Homo sapiens: one gene and its partners. The protein of the gene in region 3 purifies or fractionates together with the protein of the main gene of each other region. This does not show direct contact. Each region holds a gene or a part of one and is shown on either strand. Other genes may lie near its edges. The genes, in order: EPB41L5, PRDM10, PRICKLE3 and METTL18.

Region 1 (7,041 bases), on a different chromosome or scaffold from region 3:
AAAGGGCTAATATCCAGAATCTACAAGGAACTTAAACAAATTTACAAGAAAAAAACAAACAACCCCATCAAAAAGTGGGTGAAGGATATGAATGGACACTTCTCAAAAAAAGACATTTATGCAGTCAACAAACATATGAAAAAAAGCTCATCATCACTGGCCATTAGAGAAATGCAAATCAAAATCACAATGAGATACCATCTCATGCCAGTTAGAATGGCCATCAATAAAGTCAGGAAACAACAGGTGCTGGAGAGGATGTGGAGAAATAGGAATGCTTTTACACTGTTAGTGGGAGTGTAAATTAGTTCAACCATTGTGGAAGACAGTGTGGCAATTCCTCAAGGATCTAGAACCAGAAATATCACCTGACTCAGCAATTCCATTACTGGGTATATACCCAAAGAATTATAAATCATCTTACTGTAAAGACACATGCACATGTATGATTACTGCAGCACTATTCACAATAGCAAAGACTTGGAACCAACCCAAATGCCCATCAATGATAGACTGGATAAAGAAAATGTGGCACATATACCCCATGGAATACTATGCAGCCATAAAAAGGATGAGTTCACGTCCTTTGCAGGGACACAGATGAAGCTGGAAACCATCATTCTCAGCAAACTAACACAGGAACAGAAAACCAAACACCACATGTTCTCACTCATAAGTGGGAGCTGAACAATGAGAACACACAGACACAGGGAGGAGAACATCACACACCAGGGCCTGTCGGGGGGTGGGGGGTTAGGGGAGGGATAGTATTAGGAGAAATACCTAATGTAGATGACGGGTTGATGTGTACAGCAAACCACGATGGCACGTGTATACCTATGTAATAAACCTGCACGTTCTGCACATGTATCCCAGAACTTAAAGTACAATTTAAAAAAAGGAAAAAAAATTGTTATCTATTGGTTAATTGACCAAACATTTCCCAATTTAAAACTTATAAGGGTTTTACATTAAAGCTATTTACCAATACTAAGCTCTTAAACAAGTTTACTGTCGTATTTTCAAAGAAAAAACTTAAAAATTAGATAGAAATTTCTACCTGATACCTTTGTCATTCACTGAAAGGCCTTCTCACCCTATTTAATTTTTTTTCTTTAAAGGAAGAAGACGGCTAACTATAATCACTAGTGACCCTTATCCTAGACCCTTATCGTAATGGGAAATGAGTATGTGCTTCATTCAATTTCTAAAATCAATTCTAAATCTTCTCCCAGAATCACAGTAGACTGGTTGAGAAAATAAATCTGAAAAGGGGAAATCATTTCTTCTTTTTTAGAAATTATTATTCTTCTGGACTATTTTTTCCTTTAGTGACAATTTAGTAAAACAGGCCAATGACCACTTTATATCCATGCACGTACCTAGAGTTAGGTTAATAAGTACGATTTCACCTACAGAATTGGAAAGACAGTTGTTCCTTTTTTTTGAGATGGAGTCTCGCACTGTCACCCGGGCTGGAGTGCAGTGGTGCGAATTCAGCTCGCTGCAACCTCTGCCTCCTGGGTTCAAGCGATTCTCCTGCCTCAGCCTCCCAAGTAGCTGGGATTACAGGCGTCCGCCACCACACCCAGCTATTTTGTATTTTTAGTAGAGACGGGGTTTCACTATGTTGGCCAGACTGGTCTCAAACTCCTGACCTTGTGATCCGCCCACCTCGGCCTCCCAAAGTGCTGCGATTACCGGCGTGAGCCACTGCACCTGGCCCAATTGTTCCTTTTTCTTTTTTTTTGAGACGGAGTCTTGCTGTCACCCAGACTGGAGTGCAGTGGCGCGATCTCAGCTCACTGCAATCTCCACCTCCCAGGTTCAAGTGATTCTCCTGCCTCAGCCTCCTGAGTAGCTGGGACTACAGGCGCATGCCACCACGCCCGGTTAATTTTTGTATTTTTAGTACAGATGGGTTTCACCATGTTGGCCAGGCTGGTCTCGAACTCCTGGCCTAAGGGTTCTGTCTGCCTCAGCCTCCCAAAGTGCTGGGATTACAGGCATAAGCCACTGCACCTGGCTGACAACTGTTCTTGTTTCACAAAAAGTCCAATCTATATCTCCAGCTGTTTCACTACAATTGTCCCCATGAGAGACCAGCTAGTTTATAAATTTGATCAAGCATCACATACACCCAGCTAAGCATACAAAGTTTAGGAAACCATTCCAGATCAGTAACTAGCCATTTGTTCCACCACTTTAAAAGCTAGTGTTGTTTCTCCTCCATACTGCACTGCGTTTTTAAAAACCTCTTTTTTTTTTTTTTACAAATTCTACTCTCCTACTATCAGCTTGTCCATCAACAACCCTGAAACTTCATACTTCAAACATTAGGTAATAAGAAATTTCTTTCCAGTCTCTTACACAGCAATCTCAGGCTTTTCACCACATATCCAATGATATTTTAATGAAATAGTAAACAAAACTCTTAAGATTCCTATCAAATAAGAAATGAGTATGAAAACTATCCTCACAAAATATCTCATGTTGGAATGTCTGATAAACCCTCAAGAAGCACTTACAGGAAGAAAATTTAGATGCTTTCAAGTTGTCCAGAATCAAAAACCCTAAAAATATACATTCTTATAGACAAAGATAACAAATACACGTAATGATGACTTCAAAACACTTCAAGAAATCCTGAGTCTTTGATTAATTTTATCATATTCTAATATTTTAAAATGTATAATGTACATATCTAATACATTCCAAATTATTAAGTTAATCAGAACATCCATTTAAACAAACTCTCCAATTCCTTATACTCTCACTTGGTGAGTTTAAGGTCTTCCCGAGCTTATTCAATTATGTATTACAGCAGCACGTAGGCTATCACTTTGCCCAAAGAGACTTTTTAAATTGAATTTTGGGTAGATGAGTGTGTACTAAAAAGTCTGTGGGGAGAAAAGACATTAAGGAATATCCTATGAAGCTCACATCAAATGATGTAATTTACCGTTAAGTCTTTGAATGCAGAACAAAGACATGAGAAAGAGATTTGGTATTAGCAAGCAACTCAGAAAAATATTCAACTGCCCAAAACCAAAAAGCCAACCTTTTCTTCCCCTCCTCCACCCAAAAAGTCCTGTAAAAAAATAAGCTAACCCCTTTCAAACATGTCAGATTGTTTCACACTGAGTTATGATTATATATTTCTGAAAAAAAAAAAATCTATCCAAAATGCAAATATAATTACAACAGCCTGTCTTGAGATAAAGACTACAGTGTATGAAAAACCTACAATGCAAAATACTTCAGGAGCAAAGAGACAGGCAGTCAGAGCTGAGGGGTATGAAGAAAGTCCTTTTTCTCACTTCACCTCATTAATGTCTGCAAGTAAACCAAATTGTGGGGAAATATTTATTTAGAAGAAAGTAAGGAGAGTTTTAAAAAATACAGAAGTGCATAGAAGCTAAAAGTCTTACAGTACACATTTAAGTGTTGTTATTCTCAAAGATTCACAACGTTTTAATAATGGTTCAACAAGGATTGTCAGAAATCCACTAGACTACATCATGTGCTGCCATCACAAAGAACACATAGAAAGACACATGAAACAGACTCATGCCAATAACTGCCCTGTCATTTAAATGTTTCAGGTAATCGCCACTAATTCCAAAGAGAAATACCACCAATCCAAGTACTTTTGGTCTACGGTTATCTGATCCATGTACCTGAATGTTACAGTGCCTGATCTATACTAACCCATAATACCTTTACTTATTTCCATCCAGAAGTTACCAATACAAAGCTTTTAAACAAACAAACAAAGACAGTAATCGCAAACAGAATTTGGAGCTCAGCAAGACCTACTTACTGGCAAGTCCACACTAACATCAGTACCATCCAGAAGGGACACCCGACACGTGATGATGGACTTAGAATCTCCAGCTGCAGGAATATGTGTGGCGGCGCGTTGTGCTTCTCGGAGTCGTTCCTTCTCTGCATGTTTACGCATAGACCGACGCCCTAGTGTTCTACGGAAGAAACTCAGCATTTTTGTCACTATAAAAACAGAGAGAAAAAGATGGCATCAGGAAAAAAATGAGATTCTCCACAACTTGCAGTCAGTCAAATGGCATTATTTAGTCAAGTCCTGTGAACATTAGTAGAAATGCTACTAAAAAGGACACCTGGGCTGGGTGCAGTGACTCACGCCTGCAATCTCAACACTTCGGGAGGCCTAGGCAGAAGGACTGCTAGAGCCCAGGAGTTCAAGACCAGCCTGGGCAACATAGTGAGAACTAATCACTACTAAAAATAAAATTAGCCAGGTGTGGTGGTGCATGCCTGTGGTCCCAGCTACTTGAGGGGCTGTGAGGCAGAAGGATCACTTGACCCCAGGCAGTCAAAGCGGCAGTGAGCTGGGATTGCGCCACTGCATTCCAGCTCAGGCAACAGAGCAAGACCCTGTCTCAAAAAATAAGTAAATAAAAAACAAAAAGGGCTCCTGGTCAAGTAAATTTGAAAAAAAAAATCATTAAAACTGGCTTTTCATAAATATTTCAAGACATATTATAAATGATAAATATACACAATTTTTGTCAATTAAAAAGTAAATTAATTAATTTAAAAAGCTGGTTACTTTAATTCAAAGTTTTAAAAGACTTGTATGTATAAGACACAGCCACAGTTTGGAGCTTTCTAAATTTACCGGACCATTTTATCAGGAACTGATTTGGCAGGAGAAGGCAAACATTCATGAAGTTCATCAGGTCTTCTAAATAGATAAATTATATGTACAACATCTTGTATATCCCAAGATGATGTCAGACACTAAGGTATCCTTTGATGATCATAAAAATTCTGAGAAGTGGCCGGGCGCGGTGGCTCACGGCTGTAATTCTAGCACTTTGGGAGGCCAAGGCAGGTGGATCACGAGGTCAGGAGATCGAGACCATCCTGGCTAACATGGTGAAACCCCGTCTCTACTAAAAAAAAATACAAAAAAAAATTAGCCGGGCGTGGTAGCAGGCGCCTGTAGTCCCAGCTACCGGGAGGCTGAGGCAGGAGAATGGCATGAACCCGGGAGGTGGAGCTTGCAGTGAGCCGAGATGGCGCCACGGTACTCCAGCCTGGGCGACAGAGCAAGACTCCGTCTCAAAAAAAAAAAAAAAATTGGCCGGGTGTGGTGGCGGGTGCCTGTAGTCCCGGCTACTGGGGAGGCTGAGGCAGGAGAATGGCGTGAACCCGGGAGGCGGAGCTTGCAGTGAGCTGAGATGCCTCACTGCACTCCAGCCCGGGTGGCAGAGGGAGATTCTGTCTCAAAAAAAATCCTGAGAAGTTCCATTTCTTTTCTGAGCATTCATAATAAAAACACAAAAACAATCACCTATTTCAGCTAAAATACAGATATAATTCAAATTTCCTAAGTTTTGTCAAATATTCTATTACATACAGATTTTAAATAACTACTTAACATAAATCTTTTTAATGTCAAAGTACTTTAATGCTTTTTTCCTTAACTCTATAAAGAACATTAATGTTAATCAAAACAGTTAAAACAGGTTTTAAAACATAGCACACTAAATGGAAACACAAAATCAAAGTCACTTTGCTATCCTCATGTGTTTCATTTGCACAACAAAGAGAGTTTAAGTACACATAAGCCAACAAATAAGCCAAAAAGACTATTAATTCCAAAGAAAACAAGAAGCTGTGCAGAAAAGGAAAAGTAAATCACAATACACTACATGACTCAGCTGCTAATGATTTCAATGTCAAATACTAAATACTGATCGAACAATAACCACAACAGACAGGAGGTACATAATAAGAGGTAGGGGATACAGATATGGAAAGAGCTAATTCCTCATGATGCGTAACAGCAAGCCAACAGGTCATTACTAGAATTTAAAAATCAACAATTAGCAGTAAGAGCATTTGATTTAAAATGTGAAAATGATTGCCTCAGGAGAGGGAGCAAAAGAATTCAGGAGAATGCTGTTTTTCAAGAGAAGCCTTCAGATAAAATGACTTTTTCAACTAGATTTATTTATAAACCCGATAAAATCCGATTTTTAAGATAGTACCATATTAAAATGTCTATACACTGAAGATTAGCCTACACATTTTACACATGTATACTCTTGCGTAATTAGGTAAACTAATCCCAAGGAAATAACTAAAATTTTAGTTAGATAACTTTCCAGTGTTCCAAACACTCATATATAATACCTGGTCCCAGTCTCTTTCTCCAGATTTTTTTTTCCAGGTATTTCTCCCTTTGGAACTTGCTATCCAGTCTCATTTCAGCTGCCTAAGACTGTACTTGTTATCCCAGATTTCTAAAATCCTGTGTCACAGAATCCCTACATATTCCTTTTAACTCCACCAATATCTCCCAAGAAACATTTTATGATATCCCACCAGTGCACTCCAACCTGAGTGAGACTGAGACTCTACATCAAAAAAAGAACAAAGAGCAAGATACGAAAAAGTCCTAAAAGATAATTTAAAAGATGTTCATAAAAACGAACACCTTTAACAGTATCCAAGAAAATCCAAATGAAAAAAAATAAGATATTGTCTGTCATTTAAAGACTCAAGATAGTGTAAAAAAGAATGTGAGAAAAAATAATCCTCCTACGTTGGCCTTTTTTGGAGGGAGACTTGACCATGCTATTAATATTTTTTTAATTCTTTTTTTTTTTGAGACAGTCTCAACCTAGTCCCCCAGGTTGCAGTGCAATGGCGCGATCTCGGCTCACTGCAACCTCCACCTGCCGGGTTCAAGAGATTCTCTTGCCTTGGCCTCCTGAGTAGCAGGGATTACAGGTACCAGCCACCACGCCCAGCTAATTTTTGTGCTTTTAGTAGATACTGGGTTTCACCATGTTGGCCAGGCTGGTCTCAAACTTCTGACCTCAGGTGATCCGCCCGCCTCGGCCTCCCAAAGTGCTAGGATTACAGGCGTAAGCCACCTCGCCGGACCAATACTAGAAATTTTAACATGCATATTCCTTACTCAACAGTTCTATTTCTGGAAGGATAACCTAAAGAAAAAAAATCACACATGTGCTTTAAGTTGTAGGA
Region 2 (2,666 bases), on a different chromosome or scaffold from region 3:
CTTGTTTTAGTTTTCAGTAATTTAACAAAGGGAGCCTGCTGAATAACAAAATTAAAATGATGAAACAAAAGTTTGACAGTGATATTCTGAAGCAAAAACTGTCATCTAAATTTTTCTTGCTGATTTTTTTTAACTTCCCTATTTTAGAAAACTATTGTTGGGCTGTTGGTAGTGCTTTCCACAGATGCTGGTCCTCAGTGGATTAGGTCAGAAGCTCATGTTCTGATAGTTCTTCATTATTTCACAAAGGTGGACAACCTGAAAGAGAAAAGGCTGCTTGATGTCAGCAGAATCTAAACCCCTACATTAAAGCTTTGCCTCCCATTCTGTGGTTGTGGTGGTGGTAAGAAGGAGATATTGGTACCAAGAAAAATTTCCAAAACTATTGAGAGAGAGAGAGAGAAAGTATTGAAATTTTGTTCTGCCTTGCAGGATCCATTTATCATTCATTGGTAAAGGATATATTCCTTGTTCTTACCAAGTGTACATTTAACTCTTGCTGACATGTTCAGTGTATTTTATTACTTTTAATGCTGTCTTAAAATGAACATTCTTTAAAGTTGGACAGGAAGGTGGCATTTCTTATTTATTAACATTTTTAACTTTAAACATATTGTGACTCATCTAGACCTTTTAATAAGACGGTCAACTTCACACTTAGGGAAAAAATTAAAATGTGATGGCCACTTCTAATAATTCAGGTAGTTATAAGGGATCTGGAAGAAATCCAGTCTTTATGAATATACTATTAGTTGGGCATTAAAAAATCAGTATATATTTTAACTTTTTGTGACATGCTAACACATTTTCAGAATAATTATTGCATAGTAGAATTTATTACTCCAGAACAGAAAGACCTTACTTCATTTCAAATGAAGTTAATTAATTTACATTTCTGGGTAAAAACTGGTTCTATAAATTAAGTAGAGTAGCTTCTTTATGATAAAGACAATTTTCTGAAAAGTGAACAATTCTGTTAAAAGAACTTTATTGATGTGTAGATTTCGCACTTTATTTCTGAGACTGCGTTCATGTAGTTGTTCCCCAATGTTTGAGTACTAAGAGAACTTGAGAAAATTACTTCATAAACATATGGAAACTGAAAATGGACTCTCTTTGTGACAAAGATATTCAACAGAAAATATTGACCCTGCATTGCAAAACACAGGTTCGGGTTCCCTAAGTCCCACAGTGTAATGATTACAAATATCCTAGTGTCCGGTCTAGAAAGACTTTCTAGGAGAAGACTAGTGGAATTTTCTAAAGGTTCAGTTTTAGCTTTTATAACTTAAATTTGGCCCTGTTACGTTCTTTTTAATTTGAACCATAAGGTATCTCCCCTCCCTTCAGGAATAACTTATTGGAAAACTGAAAAGAATCACTGAATGGAATGTTCATTTTATGGCAGTTGTTTTAAGTTTTAAAATACACAGAGGAAAATATTGTGGAAGGACCTCTTTGTTGCTTTCCCTTCTAAGTTGTCTTCTTCTTCTTCTTCTTCTTCTTCTTCTTTGGTCCTTAAGTGAAATAAAGACTCTAAAACTAATTTGTATATTATCAGCCAGAGATGCGGATGGCAGTCGAGCCAAATCGCATGGCTTTCAGATCAGGTATTCTGCACATTCATTCCAAGGTCATAGATTTTTAAAAGGACCTGGATTTGAAGAGATGGCAAATGATGAGCCATCAGAAAACTTAATTTGGAAAACATGTATGTAGCCAGTGTGGATATTGTGGCCTCTCTCAAGACACATTGACACTGTAGACTTCATTCAGTCCAGTGTGAGTATTTTGGAGTAGGTTGGATGTAGATTTTGTTTTTATCATTGATTTGTACCGACAGAAATAGACATTTCATCATGTAAAATTCCTGTTATTCTGGAAAAACCTATTGTTTTGATCTTCTTGTTTTCTGACTTGGAAGTATCCTTTCAAAAAAACTCTTAAGATATCTAGGTCTAAAAAGCACTTCATGAGATGCTAAAGCTGACCCACTGGTTGAAAATGTTGACCCTATCCTGTTATTTAAATGTGAACATTTATTGTACATTCAGTGAGTTATAGTGTTAATAGTCTTGTGCTATGCAGCAGGTGTAAAAATTAATAAATATATTTTTTAATAAACATGTTTGTATGTGTGAAGCTACAAGAGCTATTTTTTTTTCTTTGAAGAATTGCAACTTTTGGTTTCCAGCGTGGCATACAGGAAGCTTGGAAGTTGTCCCTCCATCCTAGCAATAAGTAAGAAGCTGAGCAAATGGAAAGATCAACATCTCTCCTTAGATCCATCAGAAAGTTGAGCCCACAGGACAAACTGCTGTCCCCAAAATTGGAAAGACAAACAGGCAAATACAGAGAATCATAGCTTATTGAACAGAAACCCGTGAGAAAAAAATCCACGATCAATAACCTCTATGAGAACCAGCGCCAGGGTAGGAAAACTTGAACTATATTTGATGAATTGCTGCAGGCTCAGCGTGGAGAAATCTGAGAGGTTAAAAACTCCAGGGAACTCAGTCACTGGAGGGGGGGTCAAGGGAGACCCACACTTTTGTGAGTTTTATCCCCAGGAGCTTGACTAGGTTCTCACAGTGAAATTTGGAGAAAAATTCCCTCATGCTTCCAGCAGAGGAAGGGGAGAAGGAACCATTTTGAAATACTCCAGA
Region 3 (7,041 bases):
CTATTTTTAAAATTTTTTTGTAGAGACAGGGTCTCCCTATGTTGCCCAGGCTGATGTTGAACTCCTGGGCTCAAGTGATCCTGCCTCGGCCTCCCAAAGTGCTGGGATTACAAGAGCAAGCCACCATGCGTGGCCCCACTCCCTATTCTACCCTCCCAGCACTTCATTCACCACATGACTTCATTGATTGACTCATTCAACACATAGTTATGGGGCACCTACTGCATGTGAGACACTGTTCTAGGCACTGAGGACACAGCAATGAGCAAAACACAAAATAACATATCTGCCCACGGGCACGGTGGCTCACGCCTGTAATCCCAGCACTTCGGGAGGCTGAGGCGGGCGGATTACTTGAGGTCAGGAGTTTGAGACCAACCTGGCCAACATGGCAAAACCCCGTCTCTACTAAAAGTACAAAAATTAGCCAGGTGTGGTGGTGCACACCTGTAATCCTAGCTACTCAGGAGGCTGAGGCAGGAGAATTGTTTGAACCCAGGAAGCGGAGGTTGCAGTGAGCTGAGATCGTGCCACTGCACTCCAGCCTGGGCAACAGAGTGATACTTCTCAAAAAAAAAAAAAAAAAAATCTGCCCAGGCAGAGGGTAGATTCTGGAAAGGAGGAACACCCAATAAGCAAACCTGTAAATATATGTCAGATGGTGTAAGGGCTATGGAATTAAAAAGCAAGGAAGGTGGGGTGAAGAAAGAGAGAGGGAAGGAGAGAGATGCTAGAATTGTAAATAGGGTGCCCAGAATAAGCCTCTGTGAGAATTTAATGGTTGAGCTGCCCGAAAGGAGGTGAGAAGTGAGCCATGCAGACATCTAAGGTTACAGCGATTCACACAGGCAAAGGGCATGGCTAATGCCAAGGCCCTGAGGCAGGCGTGTGCTTGGCATATGTAAGGGATGGCAAGGCCAGTGCTGCTGGCGCAGAGTGAGCAAGGGGGAGACCAGCTGGAGATGAGGTCAGAGATGTGGCAGGGGCTATGGAGAGGACTTTGGCTTTGCCTGTGAATGAAGGGAAGTCGCAAGAGGGTTGTCAGCAGAAGACAGCCTGGAGGAATAAGGGTGGAATCAGGAGACCAGTGAGGAACCTGATGATGATGGCACTGGCAGTGCAAGGAGTTATATATATATGGAGAGAGAGACAGACAGACAGACAGAAAGGCCGGCATGGTGGCTCACACCTGTAATCCCAGCACTTTGGGAGGCCGAGGCGAGTGGATCACTTGAGGTCAGGAGTTTGAGACCAGCCTGGCCAACATAGTGAAACCCCATCTCTACTAAAAATACAAAAATTAGTCTGGCATGGTGGCAAATGTCTGTAATCCCAGCTACTCGGGAGGCTGAGCCACAAGAATTCCTTGAACCCAGGAGGCAGAGGTTGCAGTGAGCTGAGATTGCACCACTGCACTCCAGCCTGGGCGACAGAGCAAGACCCTGTCTCAAAAAAAAAAAAAATAGGCTGGGTGCAGTGGTTCACGCCTGTAATCCCACCACTTTGGGAAGCCTAGGCAGGCAGATCGCCTGAGGTCGGGAGTTTGAGACCAGCCTGACCAACATGGAGAAACCCCGTCTCTACTAAAAATACAAAAAAATTAGCCAGGCGTGGTGGCACATGCCTGTAATCCCAGCTACTTGGAAGGCTGAAGCAGGAGAAGCGCTTGAACCCGGGAGGCGGAGGTTTCGGTGAGCCCAGATCATGCCATTGCACTGCAGCCTGGGCAACAAGAGCAAAATTCCGTTTAATAAATAATTATTTAATATATATATATGTGTGTGTATATATATATACACATATATATATACGTATATAGATACACGCGTATATATATACGTATATATACGTGTATATATATACACATATACGTATATATATACACATATATACGTATATATACACATATATATACACATATGTATACATCTATATACATATATATAAAATAATTATTTTACGTATATAATTTACGTAAATAATATACGTATAATAATTATACGTGTATATATATATATATATATACACACACACATATATATATATGGGGGGGGGTCTCACTCTGTCTCCCAGGTTTGAGTGCAGTGGCTCAATCACAGCTCACTGCAGCCTCAACTTCCTGAGCTCAAGTGATCCTCCCACCTCAGCCTCCCAAGTAGCTGGGACTACAGGCACGCATCATCACGCCTGGATGATTTTTGTATTTTTTGTAGAGATGGGGTTTTGCCATGTTGCCCAGGGTGGTCTTGGACTCCTGGGCTCAAGCTATCTTCCCCTCTGGGCCTCCTAAAGTGCTGGGATTACAGGTGTGATCCACAGCACCCAGCCTATATTTTGGAAGTAGCACTCAGAGGATTTGCTTGTGGGGGTGGGAGAAAGAGGAGTGAAAGATGACCCTGAGGATAGGTAGATTAACTGATGTGGGAGAGGCCAAGACAGGAGCAGTTTGAGGGGTAAGAGCATAAGTTTGGTTGTGGCCATCTGGAGTTTGAGATGCCTGTTAGACATCTAAATAGCCACATTGCCTGGAACTCAAGGGATAAGTTACAGAGCTGGACGTATGTGTTTGTCATTATGTGTCACAGGCTGGAGGTGACACATTAGCCAGCCAAGTAGATGATATTTACAGCCATAAGGTTGAATGTAATTCCCAAGAAATTGAATGTAGACAGAGGCAAGAGGACCAAGAGCTGAGTCCTAGGATCCTCCTGCATTTAGGGGTCAGCTAGTTGAGGAGGAGCCAAAACAGGGACAAAGAAGGAGCAGCCAATAAGGTGGAAGGAAAACCTGGACTGTGTGGTGTCCTGGAAGCCAAGGGAAGAAAGTGTTTCCAGGAAGAGAGAGTGGTCAGCTCGGTGCAGTGCTACCATCATCAAGTCTGATGACGACTGAGACCTGAACAATGATTTTAACAATGGGGAAGTCATGGATGACCTTGACAGCTTTGGAAGAGGGATGGGAGCGGAAGCCTGCCTCAAGTAGGCTCAAGAGAGATTGGAAGGACAGGAAGTGGAGTGAACACAAGTGCTCATAACTTTTTGAGGAATTTTCCTGTAAAGGGAAAAAGAAAAGTGGATCAGTAGACTGGGCGCGGTGGCTCACACCTGTAATCCCAGCACTTTGGGAGGCCAAGGCAGGCGGATCACTTGAGGTCAGGAGTTCGAGACCAGCCTGGCCAACATGGTGAAACCCTGTCTCTACTAAAAATAAAAAATTAGCTGGGCATAGTGGTATGCCTGTAATCCCAGCTACTCAGGAGGCTGAGGCAGGAGAATCGCTTGAACCCAGGAGGCGGAGGTTGCAGTGAGCCTAGATCGCGCCACTCCAGCTTGGGCAACAGAGAAAGATTCCGTCTCAAAAAAAAAAAAAAAAAAAAAAGGTGATCAGCAGCTGGAGGAGGAAGTGAGGTCAATACATGCAGGAACCCTCAGCGTGTTTGGGAGCTGGGAGCTGAGGGAAATGATCCGCCTTTAGGAAGGAGAGATGAGGGAGTCAGAAGGTCCCTCCTAATGCCTTTCATTTTCTGAGAAATGGGGACCCGCCATCTCACTGCATCCCAACTCACCTCTCATTTCAGTTGTTTTCTCCCACTCCTATGTCCTCCCAGGTATATCAATTTTTCAGCTGCCTCCCAGAGGACAAGGTCCCCTACGTCAACAGTCCTGGGGAGAAATACAGGATCAAGCAGCTGCTGCACCAGCTGCCCCCACACGACAGTGAGGTGAGGAGAGAGAAGACAGGAAGGGCATGCCAGGCACAGCACACAGCCTGGGCCAATGCAGGGCAGGGTCAGAGGAGGAAAGGTGAGCTGATCTGAGGTGAGTGGTCCAGACAGGCAGGGGTCATCAGGGGACATTCCTTGGCAAAACCACAGCTGGGCCTTGGAAGAAGAGGTGGTTACTTCAGGCAGGAGGCACCATCTATAGAAAGACCTAGAAGTAAACTTTCGGGGCATGGATGAAGTCTGGAAGAGGGGCAGGGACAGGCATCAAGGGAGGAGCCTGGGAGATGCCTTCTCCTCCCAGGCACAGTACTGCACAGCACTGGAAGAGGAGGAAAAGAAAGAGCTCCGAGCCTTTAGCCAGCAGCGGAAGCGGGAGAATCTGGGGCGTGGCATCGTGCGCATCTTCCCGGTGACCATCACTGGGGCCATCTGTGAGGAGGTGAGCCGTGGAGGGCCTCAGCGAGTGAGCAGTGCCTCTGCTCCAAGCCCTGGGGAGCAGGACACATCTTCCAAGCACTGGGAAGATGAGGCCTGCCACTTAAGCCCCAGTGAGGTGTCTCTAGGGTCCCCTCTTGTGGGCGGGGTCTGTTCCTCACATCTCACTGTTGGGCAGGGACTGTCTCTAAGGCAACCCCTGGTGGACAGGGACCTGTCCCATCAATCCCACTGTCGTGTGGGGTTTGTCTGTAAGGAGGCCTTAGTGTGTTTTTCTCCCCGTCTGTGCAGTGGACATGGGGCATGGGCTATCTCTTTGGTCCTCCTGTGGTCAGAACTTGTCCTCAAGAGCTGACCCACAGTGGCAGGGCCTGTCTGCAGGGCCCAGTGGTAAGCAGGGCCTGTCCTTAGATCCTACTGTTAGGTGAGATCTATTGCTAAGGTCCCGGTGGGTGGAGACTATCTCTGTGGTTTCCCCCACTAGGCCTGGCCTGTCTGTCTTCCCCACCCCTGATGAGGGAGGCTTGCCTATAAGGCCACCCACCATGGGTAGGGCCTGTCTCTACGGCTTCCCTCATGAGCAGGGTCAGTCTCTAAGGTACCGCCCAACCCCATCCCTGGTATAGGCAGGGCCTGTGTCAAAGTTACCCCATGGGTGGGGCTGATCACAAAGTTTCACTGTGGGAAAGGCCCAAGTGTAACATACTTTGGCTGACCCCATCCATCTGACCATCTTGGTGACAGTGATGGTAACCATCTTGGTGCTTGTCTCATGGCAGTGCGGAAAGCAGATTGGAGGTGGGGACATCGCAGTGTTTGCCAGCCGTGCAGGCCTGGGTGCCTGCTGGCACCCACAGTGCTTCGTGTGTACCACGTGCCAGGAACTGCTGGTTGACCTCATCTACTTCTACCATGTTGGCAAGGTCTACTGCGGGCGTCACCATGCCGAATGCCTGCGTCCACGCTGCCAAGCCTGTGACGAGGTTTGGGCCTCCCTGCCCAGGGGTGGGAGTTGAGGGTGGGCAGGGCCAGGAGCAGGCTCATCTGACAGCCACAGATGGCCTGCGCCCTCCAGATCATCTTCTCCCCTGAGTGCACGGAGGCTGAGGGCCGCCACTGGCACATGGATCACTTCTGCTGCTTTGAGTGTGAAGCTTCACTAGGAGGGCAGCGCTATGTCATGCGTCAGAGCCGCCCCCACTGCTGCGCCTGCTACGAGGCCCGCCACGCGGAGTACTGTGATGGCTGTGGGGAGCACATCGGTGGGTGAATGCTGTGGGACTGGACAGAGGGATGGATGGACAGCTGGGCCACAGTCCTACCCCACCAGGACTCCTCCTGTCCTCCAGGCCCCATCCTCCATTGTGCCCTGTACTTTGTCCAGCCCCAACACTATAGACCTGTACGCTTGGTTGCAAGTCCCACTCCCAATGTCCCCACTATGCCATGCTTTCTAAACCCCACCTAACACAATGCTAGGCCACCACCACATGTCTACACCCACCTCCAGAGGGTGCTCTAATTCCAGCCCCAGGGCTCGCCCTACTCCTAGCCTCTACCACCCCAAGCTGTGCCCCGTTCTCCTCCACTCTCCTGTATCAGCCTAAGTCAGGCCTAGCTTCTAGCTACACCCTATCCTCTGAGAACCACTCCTTTCTCAACAGGGCCACTCCCCACCTGCTAAGCCCTGCCCCCACCAGCCAGGCCTCCTCTTCAGGCCCAGCTTTCCATTCTCCTTCCACTTGGAGCCACCCCCTAATGTCTAAGCCTGGCCCGAATCTTAGAGTCCAATGCCCACCCCGCTCTGGGAGAGAGCACCCTGGGAAAGAAAGGGAGGAGTGAGAGAGAGGTTCACCAGCCAGTCTCCAGGAGAGAACCAAAACCTGTTTCCTGCTTTCTCCAAAAGGGCCCCATTCTGGAGGAGGGAGGAAGGCACCCAGGGGTGCCCTGCCTCGGATTCCCCACCTCTTCTTGAGAAGGGACTCGTTCACGAGGGGTGGGGTTACGCCTGGGGGTTCTGCCTCAGTTTTTCCCCCTCGTCGTTCCCCACAGGCCTGGACCAAGGCCAGATGGCTTACGAGGGCCAGCACTGGCATGCCTCAGACCGCTGCTTCTGCTGTAGTCGCTGTGGGCGGGCCCTGCTGGGCCGCCCATTCCTGCCACGCCGAGGCCTAATCTTCTGCTCTCGAGCCTGCAGCCTTGGGTCCGAGCCCACAGCTCCAGGGCCGAGCCGCCGCAGCTGGAGTGCCGGCCCTGTCACAGCCCCACTTGCAGCCTCCACAGCCTCTTTCTCTGCTGTGAAGGGGGCATCAGAGACCACCACCAAAGGCACCAGCACAGAGTTAGCGCCAGGTGAGCTAACCCTCTAGCCACACCCAGCCACAGCCCAGTCACCCCTATGTCCTTGCCCCTGCCTCAGCCCTGGCCCTTCCTTCTTGACTAGCCCAGGCCCTTCACCTGCTGTATCCCTGGGCCCCGCCCATTTCTCAGCTCATCCTCCTTCCCCACACCAGTCCAGGCCTGGTTTCCATCCCAAACTACACCCGCCTCATGAACCCTGGTTCCACCCTGTCAATACAGGGCTGGTCCCCTACCTCAACTTGTCTCTGCTTGACCCCAAGTTCCTCTTCCTCTTCTCCAGCCGGTCACCCTTCATCCTCTGCAGTCAGGCCCCACCCCTTTTATTGCAAACCAAATCTACTCCAGCCTATGCCACACCTCTTCCATCCGAAGCCACCCCGGGTGCCCTGGCCACGCCCCCCACACCAGTCCCATCTTGCTCCGTGTTCTTCCTTCCAACCCTCTCAACACCCAGAGCCTGCTCCAGGCCTCACACTTCCCAGACTTCCCACCTCCCTGCCATTCTCCGACCCCTGCCCCCA
Region 4 (6,745 bases), on a different chromosome or scaffold from region 3:
AGATTTATTAGGTAAACAGTATTGTGAAAACACATTAAAGAAATATTTTGAAAATTGCCCAGGGACAAACTTGCCTTTTCAAACTATGCATAGTCATGAAATATTTTTGACAGATGAGAAACAATGCTACAATAATCCACAGGTTTATGATTTATTTATTTATTTTTTTTTAGAGAGAGGGTCTCGCTCGGGGCCAAGTGGGGTGGCTCACACCTGTAATCCCAGCACTTTGGGAGACCTAGATGGGCGAACAAGAGGTCAGGAGTTGAAGACCAGCCTGGCCAGTATGGTGAGAACCCGTCTCTACTTAAAATACAAAATAATTAGCTGGGCATGGTGGCGCACACCTGTAATCCCAGCTGCTCAGGAGGCTGAGGCAGGAGAATCACTTGAAACTGGGAGGCAGAGGTTGCAGTGAGCCAAGATCGCGCCATTGCACTCCAGCATAGGCGAGACTCCGTCTCAAAAAAAAAAAAAAAGAGAGACGGTCTTGCTGTCACCCAGGATGGAGTGCGGTGACATGATCACACCTCACTGCAGCCTCAAGCTCCTGGGCTAAAGTGATCCTCCCATACCAGCCTCTCAAGGAGCTGGGATTAGAGATGCACACCACCATGCCCAGTTTGTACTTCCGATTTCTATTACAAGAAATTTTTCTTTCCTCAACATTTCTATTGTACTTAATTTATACCTAAGTCACTCATCACCTTCTATCTTTTTTCATATTACTTACATACCTATCTTACCAACTTTATTTGACTGAAATTCTTCTGCACATAGCAGCTTACAAATACACGACAATAAATTCTTCATATACACCATCAAGAATAATTGTTAGAATAATTGTTAGAAATGTTTTACTGTAACAACACCATAAGAATCATCAAAGAATGTTAATAAGAAAAATGAATAACCCGGCCGGGCACGGTGGCTCACGCCTGTAGTCCCAGCACTTTGGGAGGCTGAGGCAGGCGGATCACGAGGTCAGGAGTTCGAGACCAGCCTGGCCAACATGGTGAAACCATCTCTACTAAAGATACAAAAAATTAGCCGGGCATGGTGGCACGTGCCTGTAATCTCAGCTACTCGGGAGGCTGAGGAAGGAGAATCACTTGAACCTGGCTGCTGTGAGCTGAGATCGCACCACTGCACTCCAGCCTGGGTGACAGGGTGAGACTCCGTCTCAAAACAAACAAACAAACAAAAAAAAACCCATAGTCCTACCACAGTAATACAAGAATTCATTCCTCTTCCGAAATCTTATTTTTTACAGCAGCAATCAAAATGAGGTCATCATTAACTCAAATTTGAGTTCAGTAGGGTAGAATTGGCCTCATGAAAAAATTTCAGTAAAGCTCAAATAATTACCAGCTGTTCCAAAATTAGTCAGTTATGATTATGCAGACATGCAGGTAAGGCCTGGAAAATAATACGTAAAATGCAAAACATGAAAAAGATTTTGGGGGGTAATGGCATTGTAGATTTATTGCAAATTTTTCATTTGTTAAAATAGTGAAGCTAAAATACTACCATTAAGCTGAAAAAAAGTATTGTCTAATTAGACTCCCAAGTATTTTTAAAACATGAAATATTTTTAGCCCTTTAATGAATGCTTACTATGTGTCAGGCACTGTTCTAGGTGCTGAGGGTAACGCTGTGAAGAAAATCAACATCCTGCCTTTATGAACTTTGCAACATAATGTGTAGAAGTGGAAAATATACAAAGCAAACAAGAGCATTTCTTTTAATGGTAATGTGCTTTTTAGAAAACTGAACAGGCCAATGTGATACAAGTGTAAGACTGCGTTTGGGGGAACTGCCTAAGATTGAAGGCTCTGAAAAAGCCCCTCTAAGGAAGTGACATTTGGGCCAAGACATAAACATGAAATATGCAAAAGGCTGAGAGAACAAATCAGGCTGAGCAAAAAGATCTTGAGGTAGGTGAGCCTAATGTATTCATGAACAGAGTGTAGTTAATTAACTAGGTATGAGAGAAGGGCAAGGCTTAGATCACCTGGAACCTTGAAGGTAAAGTGGTTTAAAAAGGGAAATGACGAGATCTATGTTTTTCCCCTCTTAACTTTTTTGGAATAATGAATTATGAGTAGAAACAAGGAAACTATTAATACTCCAAGTGAGAGGTGATAAGGGTTTGGAATCAGAGTGGTAGCAATGAGGATGGAGATAAACGGATTGATTCAAGACATAGTTTGGAATCAGAAACAATAGAACTTACTGATCGGGTGTGTGAGACAGAGAGGATTCAAGGTTTCAGTTTGTGAAACCATTTACTCAGATGAAGAAAACTAGAGGAAGTTTGGGCTTTTTTGAATATGTCGTTTGAAGTGCAAAGCTAGGTGGGAATGTTGACTTTCAACTTAATGAAGTCTCTCTATAAGCTTGTGGGGAAGAAGAGGAATCACGTTCCGTGTCTCTGTTCTCCCAAAGCCTAACACCATGTCTCACACACATTATGCACGCAGTTTAAGTGTTTTTGAATGTTTTGAGGGTGGCTATTTGTTTTCAAGTTGAAACTCCTTGAAGACGGCAGTTCTGTACCTACACAAAAACTAAAAAAGGGGGCTTTGGCACCTTCTGAGATTTTGCTAATGCCTAGGTGAATGACTTCTATGTGATTACATAGGGCTTTAGCTGCACAATATTTGTGCAGTATTGAGATTCTCTCAAGTGAAGGTTACTTTTTTTCTTTTGAGTGTAATTGTATAAAGCTGGGCTCAAATGTTGTGAAAAAGATACATATACATATGGTTTACCATGAAAGGCTAGGATTCCAGGCACATTTACAACCACAAAGGCATGAGACCAATCAAGAATGTGCTGCACCCGGACGAAGAAGGCGCTAAGCGCCTCAAATCCAACAGTTGAAAGCCAACAACAAGCGGAAGAACTCTTTCAGAAAGACTCCAGCCTGGGTGAGAGGAGTGAGAACTTGTCAAAAAAAAAGAAAGAAAGAAGAAAAAGAGGTCTGAGAGGGGAAGGAGGAAAATCATTTTTATTTACTGAACATCTTTTAAAGATTTCACACCACAGAACTATGCCCTTTAATTCTTATAACGCTAAGAAAGCCCTTATTCATATTCACCACCCTTTTTACGGGAGACAAAAGCTCAGAGTATCTCGCTTTACCTCAAACTATTAAGAGCCAGAGCTATCGTCATACCGCAGGTCTCAGTCCTTGCCTCCCCCATTATCCACTAGCAAAAGTATTTACACTTAATTGCAAGCAACGAGTACAGAAAAACTGAAAGAAGGAATGGAAGAAAACGCCACATCCACTGCTAAAACCTTGGGTCAGAACACGTCCGCGAGGCTTTCCAGGGCCAAAGCCTTACTTAAATCTACCACGGTTGTCGCTTCCCCTCCAGTCCCTCACTTTTCATCCCACTCACTGACAAAGAAAAGAGGGGGTTCAGGCCGCGGTAATATAACCCAGCCTGGCGGTGGGTCTGAAGGGACAGAAGAGAAAGGTTCGCGACCCGCCCACACCCTTCTCTAGGTAGAAGTGACAACCAAGGAAGGATATGAGGAGTCGGGGCAGGACGGACGGCAGTTCCCGGCGGCATAGCTCCTCTGGCCAGCTACTTAATTCTTCCAGGGGAACCGCGCTAGCTGGGACCGCACCTTCCTGAGACATACTTTCGTCAAACAGGAGAGCTTCAAACCAGACCCGCCAAAGCCCAGACCGGAAACTCGCAGTCCCGCCAACCCTTGCGCGCTCTCCGCCGGCTCCAAAACCATAGAGAGGAGGGCGGCTGGTTTCTTGGTGAGCCCGGGTCCCTCAAGGCCGGAAAGAAAGTCGGGCTTCTCTAGCCCCTGGAGGACTCGACTCACTGGTGCGCGATTTAGGTCCGGAGGAGGCGTTGTGAGGTGAGCTTTTTCAGAAGCGCGATCCCAGGACACGTCGGGAAGCAAGCATCCCCAGGTCTGGATCACTGTAAACATTACATTCAAATGGGGAGGTGAGGGCCAGAAGTCCCCACTTCTGGGGTCGGATTTGTTCCGGGACCTGCAGCCGGAAGTGACTCCAAGCCTTGCAGCGTGATGGGAGAGGAAAGAGGCGCGTTCCTAGCCGCGGGACTGGGTGACCCGCCTCTCCCCCAAATTGTAAATCTTGTATAAAGGGAACAAAGATCCCACTTGCCAGAACTGTGAAAATTGAGGCAGATGGTATAGTGTCTAGCGCAGTAGATAGAAGATTCTCAATAAAGTTGCTTCTTATTTCTACAGGTCTCTCCAAACTACTGCAGTGCCCTAGTTTGCGTTTGCTCTGCCACCGAATTAGTCTTTACTAATTATTGCCAAATTACCCCCACTTCTATACACTTAGGGCTGCTGTTCTCGACTAAATGTTTGGAGTGAAGTCTTGGATGAATTTACACACACCAGGCCATACCTATGCATGTTTTTAAAGGGACGCTGACTTACCAAAATAAAATACTGCACCTCTTCTGTAAAAGACAGAAGTGAAGTTATTCTGGAAGCTTAGGGGGTGAATATGGTTGGACACAAATCAAGACAGCTGAAAGACAGCAAGTAGCTAGGCTGTCCTGTCTGAATATCTTGGACTTTATGTTTGTCCAGGTGGTAGTGGTGGTGGTTGCTGTTGTTCTTCTGTTTGTTTTTATAGTTGATTTTCTTCTCCCACTTTGGAACCCTTAAGGTGTGTATGAGTGTCCAAATCTCTTATCTCTCTCTCTTCCCCACAACTTTTTAAGAAAAAGCAGCTGTATGGTGGGACAGGGAGGGGTGGGGGTGGCTGTTTAATATTACACTTTAGTGAAATGTGCCATTTTGCTTTAATCATCATTTTCTTTCTTTTTTTTTTTTTTTTCTTTCCAGAGCTGCTTGGAAAGAGGACCAAAGACGTCTAAAAAGTCATTTGGAAATATCTCTAAATATTTGTTACCATGTATAAGCTGCTAAAGAGAAATTGGGCCCAACAAAACTAATTGAATAATTGAGGCAGATTTGTGTGTATCATCAAATTCTATCCAGAAGTTGAAGAATCTGAATTTAAAGATTGTGTGCATTTAATAAGAGGATGACCTTTCAGTTTAATTTCACTATAGAAGACCATCTGGAAAATGAATTAACACCCATTAGAGATGGAGCTTTGACCCTGGATTCCTCAAAAGAGCTGTCAGTCTCAGAAAGTCAAAAAGGAGAAGAGAGGGACAGAAAATGTTCTGCAGAACAATTTGACTTGCCTCAGGATCACTTGTGGGAACATAAGTCAATGGAAAATGCAGCTCCCTCTCAAGACACAGACAGTCCACTCAGTGCAGCCAGCAGTTCAAGGAACTTGGAGCCACATGGAAAACAGCCCTCCTTGAGAGCTGCCAAAGAGCATGCTATGCCTAAAGATTTAAAGAAGATGTTAGAAAATAAAGTCATAGAAACATTACCAGGTTTCCAGCATGTTAAGTTATCAGTAGTGAAAACCATCTTGTTGAAAGAGAACTTCCCTGGAGAAAACATAGTTTCAAAAAGCTTTTCTTCTCACTCTGATCTGATTACAGGTGTTTATGAGGGAGGCTTAAAAATCTGGGAATGTACCTTTGACCTCCTGGCTTATTTCACAAAGGCCAAAGTGAAATTTGCTGGGAAAAAAGTCTTGGATCTTGGTTGTGGATCAGGTTTACTAGGTATAACTGCATTCAAGGGAGGGTCCAAAGAAATTCACTTTCAAGATTATAACAGTATGGTGATTGATGAAGTAACCTTACCTAATGTAGTAGCTAACTCCACTTTGGAAGATGAAGAAAATGATGTAAATGAGCCAGATGTGAAAAGATGCAGGAAACCAAAAGTAACACAACTATATAAATGCCGATTTTTTTCTGGTGAGTGGTCTGAGTTTTGTAAGCTTGTACTAAGTAGTGAAAAACTTTTTGTAAAATATGATCTCATTCTCACCTCAGAAACCATTTACAACCCAGATTATTATAGTAATTTGCACCAGACTTTCCTTAGACTGTTAAGTAAAAATGGACGTGTACTTTTGGCCAGCAAAGCACATTATTTTGGTGTAGGTGGAGGTGTTCATCTCTTTCAGAAGTTTGTAGAAGAAAGAGATGTTTTTAAGACCAGAATACTCAAAATAATTGATGAAGGATTGAAGAGGTTCATAATTGAAATAACTTTTAAGTTTCCTGGTTAATTAACATTCACTGAGTATCCAAAATGAAATAAACAGAAGGACCAAAAATTTGAGTGTTTGATTTCTGTTTTGCTATTATTTTTTCTGAAATTTTGATGTTGTTTGTTTAGTTTTGTTTATCCAAATTGTAAGTGAGCTATGTTACCAGTCTTTTACTCACTAGGTGAAACTGAGAAGGTATCCTCGTGCATTTGATGAGATCTCCTGGGAAATCATTTTGTAAGAAAATCCGGTATTCTCCATCTTCATTCTATTTGACCTTTTACCACCTTTGACGTTACATGAAATTGTTCCCAGGAAATCCTGCCATTTCTTCTCTCAAGTCTGTGAATTTCTTCCCAGTCTTCGTTAGTTCCTTGTTCACATTAATATATATCACTAAATATTAGGTTGGGGCCTTATGTAAATAGGAAGAGGTTTTTGTTTCGTTTTGTTTTTATATTCATTTACCTTGTATAGTAAGGATCAGAATGCTGAGAATTTAACTAAATTCACATGGAGATGAGGAAACAAAGGGAATCTGTGACAGAGTATAAAAGTAATACAGAGAACTTGTACTACTTG

Evidence for each region.
Region 1: the proteins of PRICKLE3 (region 3) and EPB41L5 purify together in Homo sapiens (affinity purification with mass spectrometry; 2 studies listed by BioGRID and IntAct, with this or other methods). This does not show direct contact.
Region 2: the proteins of PRICKLE3 (region 3) and PRDM10 purify together in Homo sapiens (affinity purification with mass spectrometry; 2 studies listed by BioGRID and IntAct, with this or other methods). This does not show direct contact.
Region 4: the proteins of PRICKLE3 (region 3) and METTL18 purify together in Homo sapiens (affinity purification with mass spectrometry; 2 studies listed by BioGRID and IntAct, with this or other methods). This does not show direct contact.

What each region holds. Positions count from the first base shown.
Region 1 is NC_000002.12:120,016,047-120,023,087, reverse strand, and holds part of EPB41L5 (band 4.1-like protein 5), read right to left. Parts: intron 4,159-7,041; exon of another isoform or gene 4,140-4,158; intron 4,012-4,139; 5' UTR 4,004-4,011; coding exon 3,824-4,003; exon of another isoform or gene 3,820-3,823; intron 1-3,819. UniProt on the Homo sapiens protein: Plays a role in the formation and organization of tight junctions during the establishment of polarity in epithelial cells.
Region 2 is NC_000011.10:129,899,191-129,901,856, reverse strand, and holds the end of PRDM10 (PR domain zinc finger protein 10), read left to right. Parts: 3' UTR 1-2,146; downstream 2,147-2,666.
Region 3 is NC_000023.11:49,176,373-49,183,413, reverse strand, and holds part of PRICKLE3 (prickle planar cell polarity protein 3), read left to right. Parts: intron 1-3,607; coding exon 3,608-3,721; intron 3,722-4,025; coding exon 4,026-4,163; intron 4,164-4,938; coding exon 4,939-5,142; intron 5,143-5,234; coding exon 5,235-5,421; intron 5,422-6,211; coding exon 6,212-6,511; intron 6,512-7,041. UniProt on the Homo sapiens protein: Involved in the planar cell polarity (PCP) pathway that is essential for the polarization of epithelial cells during morphogenetic processes, including gastrulation and neurulation.
Region 4 is NC_000001.11:169,792,013-169,798,757, reverse strand, and holds METTL18 (histidine protein methyltransferase 1 homolog), read left to right. Parts: upstream 1-3,850; 5' UTR 3,851-3,943; exon of another isoform or gene 3,944-4,681; intron 4,682-4,860; 5' UTR 4,861-5,062; coding exon 5,063-6,181; 3' UTR 6,182-6,229; downstream 6,230-6,745. Other genes in the region: FIRRM (FIGNL1-interacting regulator of recombination and mitosis), read right to left, coding at 3,545-3,655. UniProt on the Homo sapiens protein: Protein-L-histidine N-tele-methyltransferase that specifically monomethylates RPL3, thereby regulating translation elongation.